Regions from separate parts of the Homo sapiens genome. Here region 2 is linked to region 1. A link means that fine-mapping ties the variant in region 1 to the expression of a gene that starts in the linked region. Tissue or cell type: anterior cingulate cortex. Region 1 holds a variant in brackets; the other region holds the start of a gene. All regions are shown on one strand. Distances are between the middles of the regions.

The links. PIP is the estimated chance that this variant, and not a neighbour inherited with it, causes the effect.
Region 2: TAF1C starts here. The variant in region 1 is fine-mapped to the expression of TAF1C in anterior cingulate cortex (GTEx, PIP 0.98).

Annotation. Positions count from the first base shown.
Region 1 is chr16:83,729,472-83,737,578 of GRCh38, reverse strand. The region is part of intron 10 of CDH13 (cadherin 13); the gene reads right to left. All of the region lies in intron 1 of CEDORA (CDH13 antisense oligodendrocyte and neuron associated lncRNA), which reads left to right. Among named protein-coding and RNA genes, the nearest start is that of CEDORA, 39 kb to the left of the region's middle. The variant G/A (reference allele first, on the strand shown) is at 4,035.
Region 2 is chr16:84,182,247-84,190,353 of GRCh38, reverse strand. TAF1C (TATA-box binding protein associated factor, RNA polymerase I subunit C) reads left to right here and starts at 3,297. Exons shown (of 15, transcript NM_001243156.2): 1 at 3,297-3,453; 2 at 5,294-5,503; 3 at 6,576-6,657; 4 at 6,847-6,944; 5 at 7,021-7,110; 6 at 7,205-7,278; 7 at 7,914-8,107. The coding sequence starts at 5,366. RefSeq lists a silencer at 3,102-3,311 and an enhancer at 2,957-3,457.

The DNA of each region.
Region 1 (8,107 bases):
CTTAGTGGGGAATAACTCAGGAACATAGGACTGGAATTTACAGGATGGCAATATTTCCCAAAAAAAAAAGAACCCTATTACATAGATATAAAGCTTTCTTAAAATTATATTTCTGCTTATAAAAATCATACACATTTGAGAAAGGTTTAAAATCACACAGCACATGTGTGTGAATTTAATATCTTCATCACTATCAATGGTGAAACAATATTGGCTTAAACTGTTCTTTTATTGGAAGGCTCTTAGTAACTTCGAAGTCAAACTTCGAGACTTACCACTGAGATAAACTACTCAGTTGTGATGTAGATATCAAGGAACTTGAGTCTAACAGCGCTCACTAATAACTTAAGTCTGAGAATGATTTAGTCTAGGAAATAGGCGCTCTTTGCCATGTAGTCACTTTCAATAGTGGGCAGGAAAGGGGTGGGGCCACAGCTAGGTGCCACTGATTGTGGGCATGGTCAGCATGAATTACCAGCGTGCCTGCAGACAAACGCCTAAGAACCACTGTTTTGAGCTCCCACCCTTTTCTGCGGACTCTCTAACCTCTTCCTTTGTGTGTGAGCCCCACGTGCACCGAGCCTTCCCTGGCAAACAATGGAACTGACATTTCCTGGGCACCAGCTACTTGCCAGGGACTGCACACATCTTCTCTGAAAACCTCCTCACCACCTGTTCCAGGCAAGCAAGTCTGCTCCTAGTTTCTTCTGGCAAAGGTCATACCGGGCGTCTTGTTCGAGGCCATTAATTCTTTGTTAGAATTTACCAAAGGTCTCCCAACTGCTGCAATAGGACCTTTTTGTGCCTGCAATAAGATTTTGCTGTGGCCGGGCTCTTCCTAGTCAGGGCTTGCTAGTCCATTTTGCAGATTTATTTCCAGGGGTGATTGACATAGTTTCCGCTAGGCGCTCACTGCCACTGCCCTCCCCCACCCCATTTTTGAAACCTACGTGAATACAGCAGCTATTAGAGTAAGGAAACAACGTCTTCACAACTTTATAAGTGTCTTTGCAAAGACATTTATATCTCATATAAAGGGACATTTGACACTTCGTAAGGGTCATTTCGTTGTTGCTTTTGACCAAATTGACTGCCAAGCAATACAGAGAAATACAGACAAAGAGATTCAGGGTATAAAGCCACAAATTTAACAATATCATACACATTGAGTAAATTAGGAAATAAAAAATTAAACAGTAATTAAACATTGAGAGACTAGGACCTTAACATATTTAGTTACCATATTAACAGGCTGAGACTTCAGAAGCTATCCGATTTCTGAAATCCAGAAATACACTTATCAATCCTAGGTGAAAACAGGGATTGAACACTCTTAGTATGGGTAAAAGCATTACACAGATGCTTTAAGGTGCAACCACAAGATAGCTTTCATGATTAATTTTCATTATCATTATTAATGACTGATCAAGTCTGATCCTATAGGTAATCTAGGTCTAAGGTTAAATTTGCTACATCCATGTATCCAGATTGGGTGGCTTTTTCTAAGCAGCAGAAATGGCGCTTGGAAAAGAACAGGACGACTTGGAGTTTGGTACCAGTTGGTAGCAACGTAAGCTTTACTTGGTGTGAGGCTCTTCATCCATTTGTTCACACTCTTTTCATTCAGTGTGTTTTATCCCTTTTTTCCCTGCATTCCTAGGCCTGAATATATACAAATATGAACAAGACCCACAAGGACTGCTCATCACCCCAGTATTCCATTTACAACATCCTGAATGAACTCCCGACCAGGCCTATAATTCTCTCTTGCAGCCAAATATCCTGCTTACTCCTGGTATCTACCTGGTCAGCAGACCTCATGAGTTATCGCCCAGTGACAAAACCATCCCAAAGATGCACCAGTCCAGCACAAAGTATGACTGTCAATCTCACAAAAGATGTAGGGTTCTACGAGGATACTCAGAGTATAAGAATTACGCTAAGTGAAATAAGCCAAGCCCAGAAAGACACATACTTTATTATTTCATGTATCTGTGGAATCTAAAAGAGTCAAATTCATGGCAGCAGGGAGAGGGCTGAAGAAGGGGGAGATGTTGATCAAAGTTTCTATGTATACAAAGACCAAACCATCACATTATGCCTCATAAATATATACAATTATTATTTGCTAATTACAAGTAAAGCAATACAAGAAGAAAAAAAGGAATCATAAGTAAATCCATGACAAGTGAAAACGCAATGGAGAGAAGGGAATCAATGATTGAAGAAGAGAAAGGACAGTGGATTTACAACTGCTTCGAAAGAGTGATTTGACTGGCAAAGGACTGGGGAGAGGTCCTTTGGGAAATGGACAAAGCCCTCGAATGGTTAGGAAAGACAATCTCTTTATAAATGCAGGGCATAAGCTGAGCACAAGGTGAAGTTTGGCATGTACTGCCGTGGGATGTTGTAAAAATTATGTCAAAAGCAAAGCAATTCTTGGTTCATCTGTGTTCACTGTGAGACTAGCCTATTATTGGGGTTAAACTTATAAACAAACTTCTATTCATCATTTTTTTCTCCAAAATAAAGTGATCAAATTGTCCCACAGAACTGACGCTTATGTTTTTTTTTTTTTGAATAACCACAGAAATTGTTCCTTCCAGACTTTAAAACTTGAGAAAGTTACAATTGTCTTATCTGAGTTCCTTTCTCAAGAAGCCAACCATCAGGTCTCCCAGATAAAATCAAGGAGCTGAAACTTACCAGACCACTGCCTCTGGATAATGAGGAGCCAGACCCCTCATCCATCAGGATTGCCTAAAGGACCACCTGCTTCCTACTGACCAACTTCTCTTCCTTGCCCCGCTTTAATCCCTGTTTTTATTATTATTATTATTATTATTATTATACTTTAAGTTTTAAGGTACATGTGCACAATGTGCAGGTTAGTTACATATGTATACATGTGCCATGCTGGTGTGCTGCACCCATTAACTCGTCATTTAGCATTAGGTATATCTCCTAATGCTATCCCTCCCCCCTTCCCCCACCCCACAACAGTCCCCAGAGTGTGATGTTCCCCTTCCTGTGTCCATGTGTTCTCATTGTTCAATTCCCATCTATGAGTGAGAACATGCGGTGTTTGGTTTTTTGTCCTTGCGATAGTTTACTGAGAATGATGATTTCCAATTTCATCCATGTTTTCCCAAACACGGTTACATTTCCTCTCTGGTGCATCAACCCCTCATTTCAGAGATGGATTTGAGACTGACCTCCCATTTCCTTGGCTGCAGCAGCACCCGATTAAAGCCTTCTTCCCTGGCTTTTGTCTTGTCTCAGTGATTGGCTTTCTGTGCAGTGAACAGCAGGACCCAGACCAAACCCCTGGTGCTTCGGTAACAATTACATCTTAACCAAATACATATATTTTTTCAGTTTTGAGTCACACTTTGGTCTTCACTTTAAATTGATTCATGGTAAGTTGCTTTTTTGTGCTTCCAGTCTTCTTTTGGTAAGGGCTGTTGGTGGTCCCTGTTTTTTGGTTCATGATTTGGAGTACATGGATGGTCACAGGAGGGGAGGTAAGGCTTTGGGGTTTAATCTGGTGACTAAACACTAATAACACTTTATTACAAGAGCAAAAAGCAGAATAAAATAGTCTGGTGCTCTGCTTCAGAGTTTCTGATAAGGCCCTCAGCAGCATGGAACCTGGGGCAGGGGGCTCTCTGCCTAAGTCTCAGGCTGCGCTGCTTGCAGGTCACGTTCCACTTTTGTCCACTTACGCCAAGGCATGGTGGTGTCTGGACAGGTGATCAGTTTCCCAGGGTGGTTTATCTCAAAGAAACACGCTCACTGGGAGAGCAAACTGGGATGTCAGAAGACCAGAATGGGAAAGTTAATCACCCCTCTGTATTTGTTCTCAGAGTTTATTTTTATTGGGTGATTAACCGACACACCATGGCCTTTGCTCTGGCACCTGGGTCTCTGAGTCCAGCTCAGACCAAGCTGAGCATGGATATTGCCACTTTCAAGAAGTCAATAAATGAAGCCAGCTGCAGCGGGGACCACAGTGAGATAGATGGCTGAGCCTC[G/A]CATTATGACTTGAAGCTCAGTGAATGTGGTCTGGCCGGCTGCCAAGCAAGGAGGTACTTAGAGGCAGCTGTGCTTAGCTTAGGTGATGACGGGACCTCCCTCTCCAGTGGCATCCTAATAGACAACCGTCTATAGAGACTGCATTCGTGATGGAGGCCAGGTTACCGGGAGGGCTGCAGGGTCCCTGGGAGACAGAAGCATCTGGGTTTCACAAGGAGAGAGCTCACCCAGGAGCACGAGTCCAGTGTGCGCTCACGGATCATCATCCGGAGGCACCATCACCAAAACAGGTGATGCTGCTGGCTGTTCTGTGAAGGAGCTGGAGGGTTATTTCCATCACTGAGTGCTCAGAATCACACATTCCCAGCCCTGTGTACTGATTTCCAGTGTTCATTCCATACATACGCTTTGACCACCTTCTATCTTCCCAGTATTCTGTTAGGGACTGGGGAGTTTGCAGTGATCAAGGTGGGGAGCTTCCTGCCCTTGGGATGCGTATCTTCACCAAGGCATTTACTATCTGATGTTGTAATTTTCACACAAGGTAGCGAGCTCCCAGGGATACACTTTGTCTTTCCCTCTTCATGTAGGCAGTGAGTGGCCTCATGTCTGGCCATACAGGCCTTGGTTAAAGATGGGTGAGTGAATGGGCAGAAAAGTCAATGTGTCAGAAGCAAGTGGAAGAGCAGCCTGGAATTCCAAGGAGTTGATATCCCCAGGGATTTCAAGGCTCTGTGATGACAAGTGCAGCTGAATCCCTGCAGGAAGCAGTTGGGTTTGGTGCCCCTGGTGAGGTCAGGGGTGTCAAGTACTGAGATTAGCAAGGGGGATGAGATGTATCCTGGGCCTGCAAGCCTCCCTCTGTATGAGGATGCCAGCTGTTTCTACGTGTGGGAACATCAGTTGCCAGGAAGAATGTGGCTCAGCTCTGCTATCATCTTTCTGGATGTAGGAGGTTCTACATTAGCACTAGTGTAGAAACAGAACCCTACTACAGTTTCCGGGTCCTCTATTCTGTTGCTCACAGAACAGGAGAGTGAGATTTAAAAAATGTACGTCATGTCCCTTTCAGGCTTCAAAACCTTTGTGGCTTTGGGGACTGATCACTGCTCACCTCCCACCATCAACTCACCCTGTTCCCCAGTCCAAAGCTAGCCAGGCTCTCCCATCGTCCCAGCCTTTGCATTAGCTGTTGGTTTCTCCCCCTCACCTCTCCCCTTGGCTGGTTCATTATCACTCTTCAGATCACACATCATCTCCCTCCTAACCAGCCCATCTAAGGTGGCCTTCTCCAGTTACTCTCCATCCCATTAAGCTGTTGACTCTCCCATGGGAAAGAGCTGTAAGCTGTAATCACACCGGTTGTGTGATCAGACATTCATTGGCTTGTTCATTGCCGGTCTTCCCACTAGAATGGAAACTCCACACTGTCTTGTTCACTGCTATCCTCAGGGCTAGTTAGGACCCGGCTCACAGTGTGAATTTTTCAATATTTTTTGAATAAATAAATAAACCAGGATGATTACCTTTAGGTTGGATGTATGAAGAATAGCTAGCCTGTCCAAAACATTTACTTTCAGCCTTGTTATTTAATCTGAAAAGCAATATTCACAACTGGCATTTATCGACTACCTGCTACCTGTCATGCAGCATTTAAATCTTCCACAAACCTTTGAGCTAGTTTATACACGAGAATTTTGCTCATTTTACATTTTCCTGTCTGAAGTCTAGAAAAAGAAAATGGATACTTTCTGAATAAATCAACCTCTTCTAAACTGACTTGCCAGAAGACGAGAAAAGAATCCAGCTGGAAAAAACCTAGGAAATAGCATTCTGCACATTGACCTTGGCAAAGAATTTATGACAAAGTCCCCAAAAGCAATTGCACCAAAAACAAAAATTGGCAAAGAAACTATCAACAGAATAAACAGACAACCTATAGAATGGAAAGAAATATTCACAAATTATGCTTCCAACAAAGGTCTAATATCCAGAATCTATAAGTAACTTTAACAACTCAACAAGCAAACAACTACCCCATTACAAAATGGTCAAAGACATGAACAGACACTTTGCAAAAGAACACATACGTGCGGTCAACAAACATATGAAGAAATGCTCCACGTCACTAATCCTCAGAGAAATGCAAATCAAAACCACAATGAGATACCATCTCACACCAGTCAGAATAGCTATTATTAAAAAGTCAAAAAATGACAGATGCTGCCCAGGTTACAGAGAAAAGGGAACTCTTATACACTGTTGGTGCGAATGTAAATCAGTTCAGCCCCTGTCCAAAGCAGTTTGGAGATTTCTCAAAGAACTTAGAACAGAACTACCATTTGACTCAGCAATCCTACTACTGGGTGTTTATCCAAAAGAAGATAAATTGTTTTGCCAAAAAGACACATGCACTTGTATGTTTATCACAGCACAATGCACAATGGCAAGCACAAGGAACCAATCCAGGTGCTCATCAATGGTGGAATGGATAAAGAAAATGCAGTGCGTGTATACCATGGAATACTATGCAGCTGTGAAAAAGGATGAAATTGTGTTCTTTGCAGCAACATGGATGCAGCTGGAGGCCATTAACCTAAGCGAATTAGCACAGGGACAGAAAACCAAATACTGCATGTTCTCAGTTCTAAGTGGGAGCTAAACATTGAGTACACACAGACACAAAGATGGGAGCAATAGACATTGGGGACTACTAGAAGGGGGAGCATGGAAGGGGTGTAAGGGTTGAAAACTATCGGGTACTATGCACACTGTCTGGGTGATGGGATCACTCATACCCCAAACTTCAGCAACACGCAATAGACCCAGGTAATAAACCTGCCCATGGACCCCCTGAATCTAAAAGCTCAAAAAAACCACAAACCAAAAAACGAAAACAAAACAAAAACAAACAAACAAAAAACCCAGGTGATCCTTTGTACCCAGTTCAATTGTATGAATTTTTTAAAAGAATACCACCGTATATTTTAGTGTGTTGAACTTTTCATCGAATTGTGATTTTAAAAAGTCACAGTTTAGCCCAGAAGGAGGTATCTCCAAGTTTGTCAGTTCCTAAAACAACATTCTAGAGGGAAACAAATGAAAATCTCTTGGAACTGTACATATTCTTTGACCCAGAAATTCTTCCTCTAATTATTTAGCTTAAAGAAATAGCTATAGGGAGCACATTCCAAAACTGGGGAATGCCAGGTTAATAACATCAAATGAGGTCCCCCTTTGCGCAAGAATTCTCAGAGCCTTTAATACTCAGATTTGCATTGTGAAGATCTGAGAGAGGGCCTTAGAATAATGCATAGCTCAGACTTATTTGGCTGAAATATTTAGCGACAATTATATTTTCTCCTTCAATGTTTACTATAGAAAAATAAAAAATCAATCAGGGAACTGTTGATCAAAAGTGATAATGGAATGCTACGTAGACATTAAAAGCCATGATGAACACAGCATGACAAGATGACAACACATACGAAGTAAATCTTTATAGTAGGTAGGTATGTGTATAGCACCGTGAGGGTCCACATGCAAACATGTGGCAGGCTCGCTGCCCCCTTCTCACAAGCACGGTAATGACTTGGCAATGGCCAGGTCAGCTTCAAAACCCCTCTTTGTATGAAGCCCTGTGTGCCAAACCCTTCTTTTTCACAGGGCTTGACATACAATCCCAAACAGATTTGCTGCTGCTGGCTGAGAAAATACCTTGGAAGGGAATGCTAGTGGCAGTTGCGGTAATAATTATGATCATGATGATGATAATAATAGAGTCACAGATAATATTTATTGAGCACTTGCTTTGTGCCAGGGAATTTCCAAGCACTTTACATGGGTCAGCTTATTTAAGTCTAACAATAACTTCATGTGGGTGGGATTACTGACCCATTATATAGATGAAGAAACAGAGGTGGTGAGGGACTAAGTAGCTGGGTCCAGGACACACAGCTAGTAAGTGATAGAGTTGTCCAACCATAGCGCCCATGCTCTTAACAGTGATGCCTCGCTGTCTGACCTGGGTCTTAGGAGTAGTGGTATCTGGCTAGTGGGATTTACATCTTTC
Region 2 (8,107 bases), 450 kb before region 1:
GAAGAGCTAGAGATCAAGAGACATAGGAAAAATAAGATAAAGACAGGGATGAAGACAATTTACACAAGGCTTACTGTGATGCAACGCGTATTTGCTTGAAGGAGGCTGCAAGTTTAACGGAGTCTTACAGTAGCCACTAACTTGGGAAAGCATGACCAGTGTCTGTAAGATTTGTCACAGTGCTTGCTGCTGCTGCTGCTGAAGCTGGGCCTGGCAGCTCTCTCCAGGATTGTGACAGTGAGGATGCTGGGGCATATGAGGACCAGGTGGTGGAGTCCTCCCAGAACCTTTGACTTGGAAGAAGCAGGTGTGGTGGGCTGGGTAGTCAGCCTCCCCAACATGTCAAGAATTGACATCAGGAAGAACAATTCCATTTTGTGTGTGTGTGCAGCCCAGAGAGTGGGATGAGGCCCAGGAGAGTGAAGGGACAGCACAGCAGATGTCCAGAAATGGACTGAGGGCTGCACATATCCACAGAGAGACTTCCACAAAGTCATCAAACCCAGTAACGCCCCAAACGCTCACCAACAGGAGGTTGCGTGAACAAATCAATGGTATATTCATACAATGGAACACGACTCACTAATTTAAAAAGGAAACAACAGCTGCGTACACAACACAGGTGAATCTATTAGGCACATGGCGTGGAAGAAGCCAGACACATCCTCTCCATGATTCCACTTATGTAAAGTTCTTGAACTGGCAAAACTAATCTGTGGTGATAAGAGTCCAAATAGTGGTTCCTTCTTGAAGGAAGTATTGACTGGGAAGTGGCACCAGGGAATTTTCTTTTTAGAAAAAAATTTTGTAGAGATGGGGGTTTTGCTCTGTTGACCAGTCTGGTCTTGAACTCCTGGACTCAAGCAACCCTCCCACCTCGGCCTCCCAAAGTGCTGGAATTATAGGCATGAGCCACTGTGCCTGGCTGGAACTTTCTTGAGTGATAGAAATGTTCTCTGTCTTGATCTGGGTGGTGTTCATGTGGGTTTCTATGTATGAATAAAAATTCAATGAGCTGTACATTTAAGACTCGTGTGCTTTACTGCATGTTGAGTATATGTCAGTTACAAAAGCAAATTGATAATGGCTTATTCAGAGAAAGGAGGAAAGGAAGAAATGGAACTGGCCTCGCAGTGCCAAAGCTGGATAGGCGTTTTACAAGGGTAATGTAGAATATTAGTGTGGTAGGCAAAATAATGGTTCCCCCAAAGATGTCTACAGCCTAATCCCCAGAACCTATGAGTATATTATTTGGCAAGGGGGCATTAAGGTTGCAGGTGGAAGTAAGGTTGCTAATCAGCTGCCTTTAAAATAGGGCTCTCACCTGTAACCCCAGCACTTTGGGAGGCCCAGGTGGGAAGGTAGCTTGAGCCCAGGAGTTAGAGACCAACTTGGGCAACATGATGAAATCCCATCTCTACAAAAACTACAAAAATTAGGCCGGGCGTGGTGGCTCATGCCTGTAATCCCAGCACTTTGGGAGGCCAAGGCGGGTGGATCACATGGTCAGGAGTTCAAGACCAGCCTGGCCAATATGGTGAAACCCCGTCCCTACTACAAATACAAAAATTAGCTGGGTGTGGTGGCAGGCACCTGTAGTCTCAGCTACTCGGGAGGCTGAGGCAGGAAAATCGTTTGAACCTGGAAGGTGGAGGTTGTAGTGAGCCAAGATCACGCCACTGCACTCCAGCCTGGGTGACAGAGTGAAACTCTGTCTCAAAATAAAAAAAAAAAAAGAAAATTAGCCAGGCATGGTGGTGCTTGCATGTAATCCCAGCTACTCGAGAGACTGAGGTGGGAGAATCATCTCAGCCTGGGAAGTTGAGGCTGCAATGAGCCATGATGGTACCACTGCACCCTAGCCTGGGCGACAGAGTGAGACCCTGTCTCAAAAAAATAAATAAAACAAATAAAATAGGGAGATTATCCTGGATTACCTGGGCGGGCCTACTATAATCACATGGGTCCTTACATGGGAAAGAGGGAGACAGAAGAGTAAAAACCAGAGAGATGGCCTCATGAGAAGAATCCGACTGGCATTGCTGGCTTTGAAGATGGAAAGGGGTCATGAGCCAAGGAATGCAGGCAGCTTCCAGAAGCCAGAAAAGACAAGATAGTGGACTCTTCCTTAGAGCCTCTCAAAAGGAACACAGCCCTGCTGGCACTTTTAGTCCAGGTAAAAACTTCCAGATAAAAACAATATAGGCCAGGCGTGGTGGCTCATCCTGTAATCCCAGCAATTTGGGAGGCCTAGGCAGGCGGATCACTTGAGGTCAGGAGTTCAAGACTCAGCCTGACCAACATGGTGAAACCCCGTCTCTACTAAAAATACAAAAATTAGCCGGGCATGGTGGCGCAGGCCTGTAATCCCAGCTACTCGGGAGGCTGAGGCAGAAGAATTGCTTGAACCCAAGAGGCGGAGGTTGCAGTGTGCCAAGATCGTGCCACTGCACTCTAGCCTCCATCTCAAAAAAATAAATAAAGACATAGATGACAGCTGAGAATTTGGAAATTGATTCTTTAAAGCAACGGTTCTCAAAGTATGGCCCCTGGACCAGCATCATCTGGGAACTTGCTAGAAATGCAGACTCTTGGGCCACATCCCAGATCTACTGAATCAGCAACTCGGGGGGCAGAGGTAGGGTGGAGCCTAGCAAACTTGTAACAAGCCCCCCAGGTGGTTCTAAGGCTCACTGAAGTTTGAGAAGTACTATGTTAGGATAACGGTAAGGTTCATGACTGGACAGTGGTTCTTAAAGCATGGCCCCCAGATAAGCAGTTTCAGCATCACCTGGGAACTTAGGCAAATCATCAGGTCCCACCCCAGACTCACCGAATTGGAGACTGTGTTTTAACTAGCCCCCCAGGTGCTACTGCTGACGCACGCTAGCTAGAGTTTGAAGACCACTGCCTAAAGCTCTCCCTGCCTGACCACCCCTGGAAAAGCTTCACTCTTAGTAGGTATTTGTACCCTTATTTGTAAAGCCCGCTTCTTGGGATTTAAGGACAATCAGTAGGATACCTACTGACCAATACAGGTCTGGCTTATAGTAGGTGTTCTGTGGGAGTTCGTTAAATGATTAATTTAATACAACTCTGAGGAAATTGGTGAAGTAGATGTGGGATTCGAACCTAAGTCCACCCGGCCTCCACTATTGGGACTCAAGGGAGCTTTATTTCCGCTGCCCACGCGCCGCCTGCACGCCCGTTCCCTCTCCTCCCGGGAGGGGGCGCGCCAGGACCCTAAGAGGCCTGGCTGGGAGGCGGGACTTCCTGCCTCCGCAGGAGGCACTTCCGGTCCAAACCGGAAGACCGTGGGTAGCTGCGGCGGGGCTGACCCGTCCCGAGTGCCAAAGCTGGGGTTCTACTTGAGATTTCCCTCGTGGTGCCAGGGTCCGGCGAGCATCACGCCGAGGCCCATTTTCCAGACGACCACGACGAGGCCGGGGTCACGTAAGTGCACGCATGCGCCCCCTCCGCGCGGACTGCGCGTGTTCGAGGAGCGGACCCGCAGATGTAGGAGGGGAGGGACGCCCCCAATCCCCAGTCCCCGCGGCAGGCTCACGTTTCGCAGTCCCCGGCCTGTCGTTATTGCGGATCCGACTGAGTTCTGTAGCCTTGGAGGTCTAAAGGGTCCTGGAGAGCCCGCAGCGAGGGCGGGAAGCCGGCCGGGGAAGTCGAGGCTGCCTTGTCTGAGGGCTTTTGTGGGGTCGTGCTCTCCACCAGCGCCCTCCGCCTGTCTAGGATCGTTTCAGGCTATGCGGTTCCAAGAGAAAATATTTTTGTTTCTATTTTATTTTTGAGATAGAACCTTGCTCTGTCACCCAGGCTGGAGTGCTGTGGCATGATCTTGGCTCACTGCAACCTCTGCCTCCCAGATTCAAGCGATTTTCGTGCCCAGCCTCCTCGGTAGTTGCGATTACAGGTGTACACCACCACGCCCGGCTAATTTTTGTATTTTTAGTATTGACAGGGTTTCACTGTATTGGCCGGACTGGTCTCAAACTTCTGGCCTCAGGTGATCCGCCCGCCTTGGCCTCCCAAAGTGCTGGGATTGCAGGCGGGAGCCACCGCACCCGGCCAAAGGGAAAAGATTTTTGTATAGCGAGACTCTAATGCTAGCGTTTGCATTTCGGTGCATGCGAGAGCACTGGTTCGGAGCTCTGCCTCTGAATCGGATGGGAATCAAGTCTTGGCTGTGGCAGCTAAGAGCTGTTGGACTAAAGTTCTTGCTGAGCCTTCGTTTCCTGAACTCTGTTAACAGGGACGGCGATAGAAGAGTGCAGCATTTAGCATGTGCCTGGCAGATAGATGCTGGCGCTTGGTCAGCGAGCGCTGCTGTTATTTTTGCCCCTGTTATTTTTGTTAATTAAAAAGGAGGGATGCTATGGCTGCTCATACTTCTAGAGGACTGTATTTACCAAAGCCTTGTGATGTAATTTTTTTTTTTCTTGAGATGGAGTTTCGCTCTTGTTGCCCAGGCTACAGTGCAATGGCGCGATCTCAGCTCACCGCAACCTCCGCCTCCCGGCTTCAAGGAATTCTCCTGCCTCAGCCTCCCGAGTAGCTGGGATTACAGGCATGCGTCACCACGCCCGGCTAATTTTGTATTTTTAGTAGAGACCGGGTTTCTCCACATTGGTCAGGCCAGTCTCGAACTCCCGACCTCAGGTGATCCGCCTGCCTCGGCCTCCCAAAGTACTAGGATTACCGGCGTGAGCCACCGCGCCCGGCCCCTTGTGATAGAAATTTATTTTTTTCAACCCCTAGTGCATTTTCTGGGAGGCACTGTGCTTGACAGTAGGAAGACGATGCTCAGATGCAGTCCCTGGCTGTGGAGTAACTTGAGCGTCTTGGGGGTGTAGTCTGTAAATGTATGATGACGGTACTTACGAGCCGGGAGAGAGGCTGCCCCTTGCCGTCTTTCTGACTCCATCTCCACCGCTCTCCACCTCGCTCACTCTGGCTGCCTCATTTTCTCACACACTTCACTGCTCTAGGATTTTCACAGTTGTTGACCGTTCGGCCTGGAACCCTCTTCCCAGTTGCGTACATGGTTCTCTCCTTCACTAGGTTCAGGCTGTGCTCAAACGCCACCTTCTCAACGAGGCTTTTCCTGGCTGGCTTTGCTGAAACCACGCCCTCAGCCCACTACCAGATCCCCTTCTCCTGGACGGGTGGTTGGCTTTAATACAGTTCTCACTACTGCTTGGCCTTGGGCTACATATTTGTTTTTTGTTATCTGCTTCCTCAAAGAACATATGCTTCCCGTAGTGCACTTTTCACTCCTCAGGAACTCTGGCGCCCCTTACCAGCTTCCAGTCTCTCGAGGTGGCCAGTGTGGTGCTTGGTCCTTGTTTCCAGGATGGACTTCCCCAGCTCCCTCCGCCCTGCATTGTTTCTGACCGGCCCCCTTGGTCTGAGCGACGTCCCTGACCTCTCTTTCATGTGCAGCTGGCGAGACGCACTGACTCTGCCAGAGGCCCAGCCCCAGAACTCAGAGGTGAGGATGCAGGCAGGGGGCCCTGGCAGCTCCAGGGACATCCCTTCCCTGGGTCCCCCGTCTCACATTCACATCAGTTGACAAGGCCACAGAGTGGTGGCATTCACACGAGTCTGCTGAGACACAGGCTCTGCCACCTCCTCTGGGGTACATGGGCTACCCTGCCATCCCTAGACGGATGCCCCCACTATGCCGGGTCCCTTATGAGACCGTGAGAATGCTGCCTGAATCAGTCGGTTGACCCCTCCCTTCCTGGAACGGAGAGCTGAGTTGAGCGAGAATAAACAAGTGAACTTTATCCAATGGATAAGGTGTTTACAAAATGTGATCAGAGCTTGGAATGAAAGCAGAAGGATGCTGAAACAGCATAGTAGGGTTGGGAGAGGGGAGGATAGACCTGCAGGGTTTCTGCTGCCTCTGGAGGGACACTGGCCCTTTGCTTGGAATCCTCAGCCGCCTAGTTCCCCTTGGAAACACCCTGTCTGGGAATGAAGCCTGGCAGAGGCAAGTGGGTGAGCAAATAAAAAGAGAGACAGTGGAGCAGAGGCTTGGGGAACGGGGGTCAGGGATGGCATCCTTACGAGGGAGGGTCTGGCGTCAAATTGGGGCTCCTCTGGGAGTCTGGTTTCCTAGCTCTTTTGTCCCCTGAATGTCTGGGCCGAAACATCCCAGGCCAGCCCAGCAAAGGGAGGTGGAGCCGCCTGCCGGGCTCCCAGAGTGACTGCAAGGTCTCCTGAATGGAAGTGAGGTTACGTGAGATGTGGACCAGCCACTGGTGGCATGAGGGGCTTCCTTCTTTGAGAGCCAGCACAGGTGGAGGTCGGAAACAGGAGCTCTGGGGTCAGGCTGCCTGGGTTCACATCCCAGCTCTTCTCTTTACCGGCTCTGTCTTCTGGGGCAAATGGCAGTGTGCCTCAGTTTCTTCAGCAGTAAAATGACAATGCCAGTCATCCCAGCTTCGCAGGATTGTTGTGAGGATTGGATGAGTTGATAAGAGATGAATGCCTGTGCACAGCCTGGCCCAGGGAGGGCATTCATCATGATACTGTCCTTGCGATTGTCCTCCCTTCAGAATGGGGCACTGCATGTGACCAAGGACCTGCTGTGGGAGCCGGCAACCCCTGGGCCTCTCCCCATGCTGCCTCCCCTCATCGGTAAGGGTCTCATTCCCCCGGGCTCACTCCACACTGCTCCACCTATTCTTCCCACTGCTCCCGCTCCTGAGACCTTCCTCTCCCTGCTAAGCCTGTGCCTGCTCAGGACCCTTGGATACCTCCAGTCGCCCAGGGCATCTGGCCGCACTCCTGTGCCCTCCCCAGCCCTTTCCGTAACCTCCTTCTCAGATCCCTGGGACCCTGGCCTGACTGCCCGGGACCTGCTTTTCCGCGGAGGGTGCCGGTATCGGAAGCGGCCCCGAGTCGTGCTGGATGTGACTGAGCAGGTGAGTGGGCCCACGGGGGACAGTGCTGCGTAGCCTGGAGACTGTGCTTAGTGACCTGGCCTCCTCTTCTCCCCAGATCAGCCGGTTCCTCTTGGATCATGGAGACGTAGCCTTTGCGCCCCTGGGGAAGCTGATGCTGGAGAATTTCAAGCTGGAGGGAGCGGGGGTGAGTGGCCCGTGACTCCAGGGGTGGGGACTCCCTGCTGTCCTTCAGGGGTGAACTCGAGGGTGTGTGAGCCTGACAAGGCCTTTCCATGCAGAGCCGCACTAAGAAGAAGACAGTGGTCAGTGTGAAGAAGCTGCTCCAGGACCTCGGTGGACACCAGCCCTGGGGGCAAGTGGCTGATGAGAAAGGAGGAGATGGATAGGCATAGCTGGTGGTGGGGATGTAGGAGGTGCTAGGACGCACGTACAGCTTTCCGTCATACCCACTTCCCCCCTGCTCCATGCAGTCTGAGCTGTACTTTCTTATACCAGACTTCCAACTCCAAATCATCTCAGGGGAAAGCAGATTTACATTTGTGGAGTTCAGGCACAGCTGCATCCAGGTGTTCAAATAATGTTCATAGAGCTGTGTCTCTCTTTCCTGTCTCGTCCACTTGCCTCTCCCTGCACAGTTCCCTAGACAGGCTGTCTCTAGGTAGCAGCAAGATGGCTTATGATCTAAGGAAAGAGCCAGTGTCCTTCCTGCGGCACCAGAAGTCCCAGAAAGGACTTTGGTTGGCTTGGCTTGGGTCTCACACCCATCTGTGAACCAGTCACTGTGGCAAGGGCAATGGAATATTGTTGGTGGCCAGGTCTGGGTCACATGATTGCTTCCGGGGCATGGGAACAGGATGGGGTGGTCTCCCAAAGGAAGAAATTCTAGGTAAATAAGAAATGTGTCCACTGCACTTGGCCTCCTTGGGATGGGACCTGTCCTCCCCTGAGTGCCACCGAGTGATCCTCCTGCTGTTCTCTGGTCCCCAGGTGTCCCTGGGCTTACCTCAGCAACCGACAGCGCCGCTTCTCTATCCTCGGGGGCCCCATCCTGGGCACGTCGGTGGCGAGCCACTTGGCAGAGCTGCTGCACGAGGAGCTGGTGCTGCGGTGGGAGCAGCTGCTTCTGGATGAGGCCTGCACTGGGGGCGCGCTGGCCTGGGTTCCTGGAAGGACACCCCAGT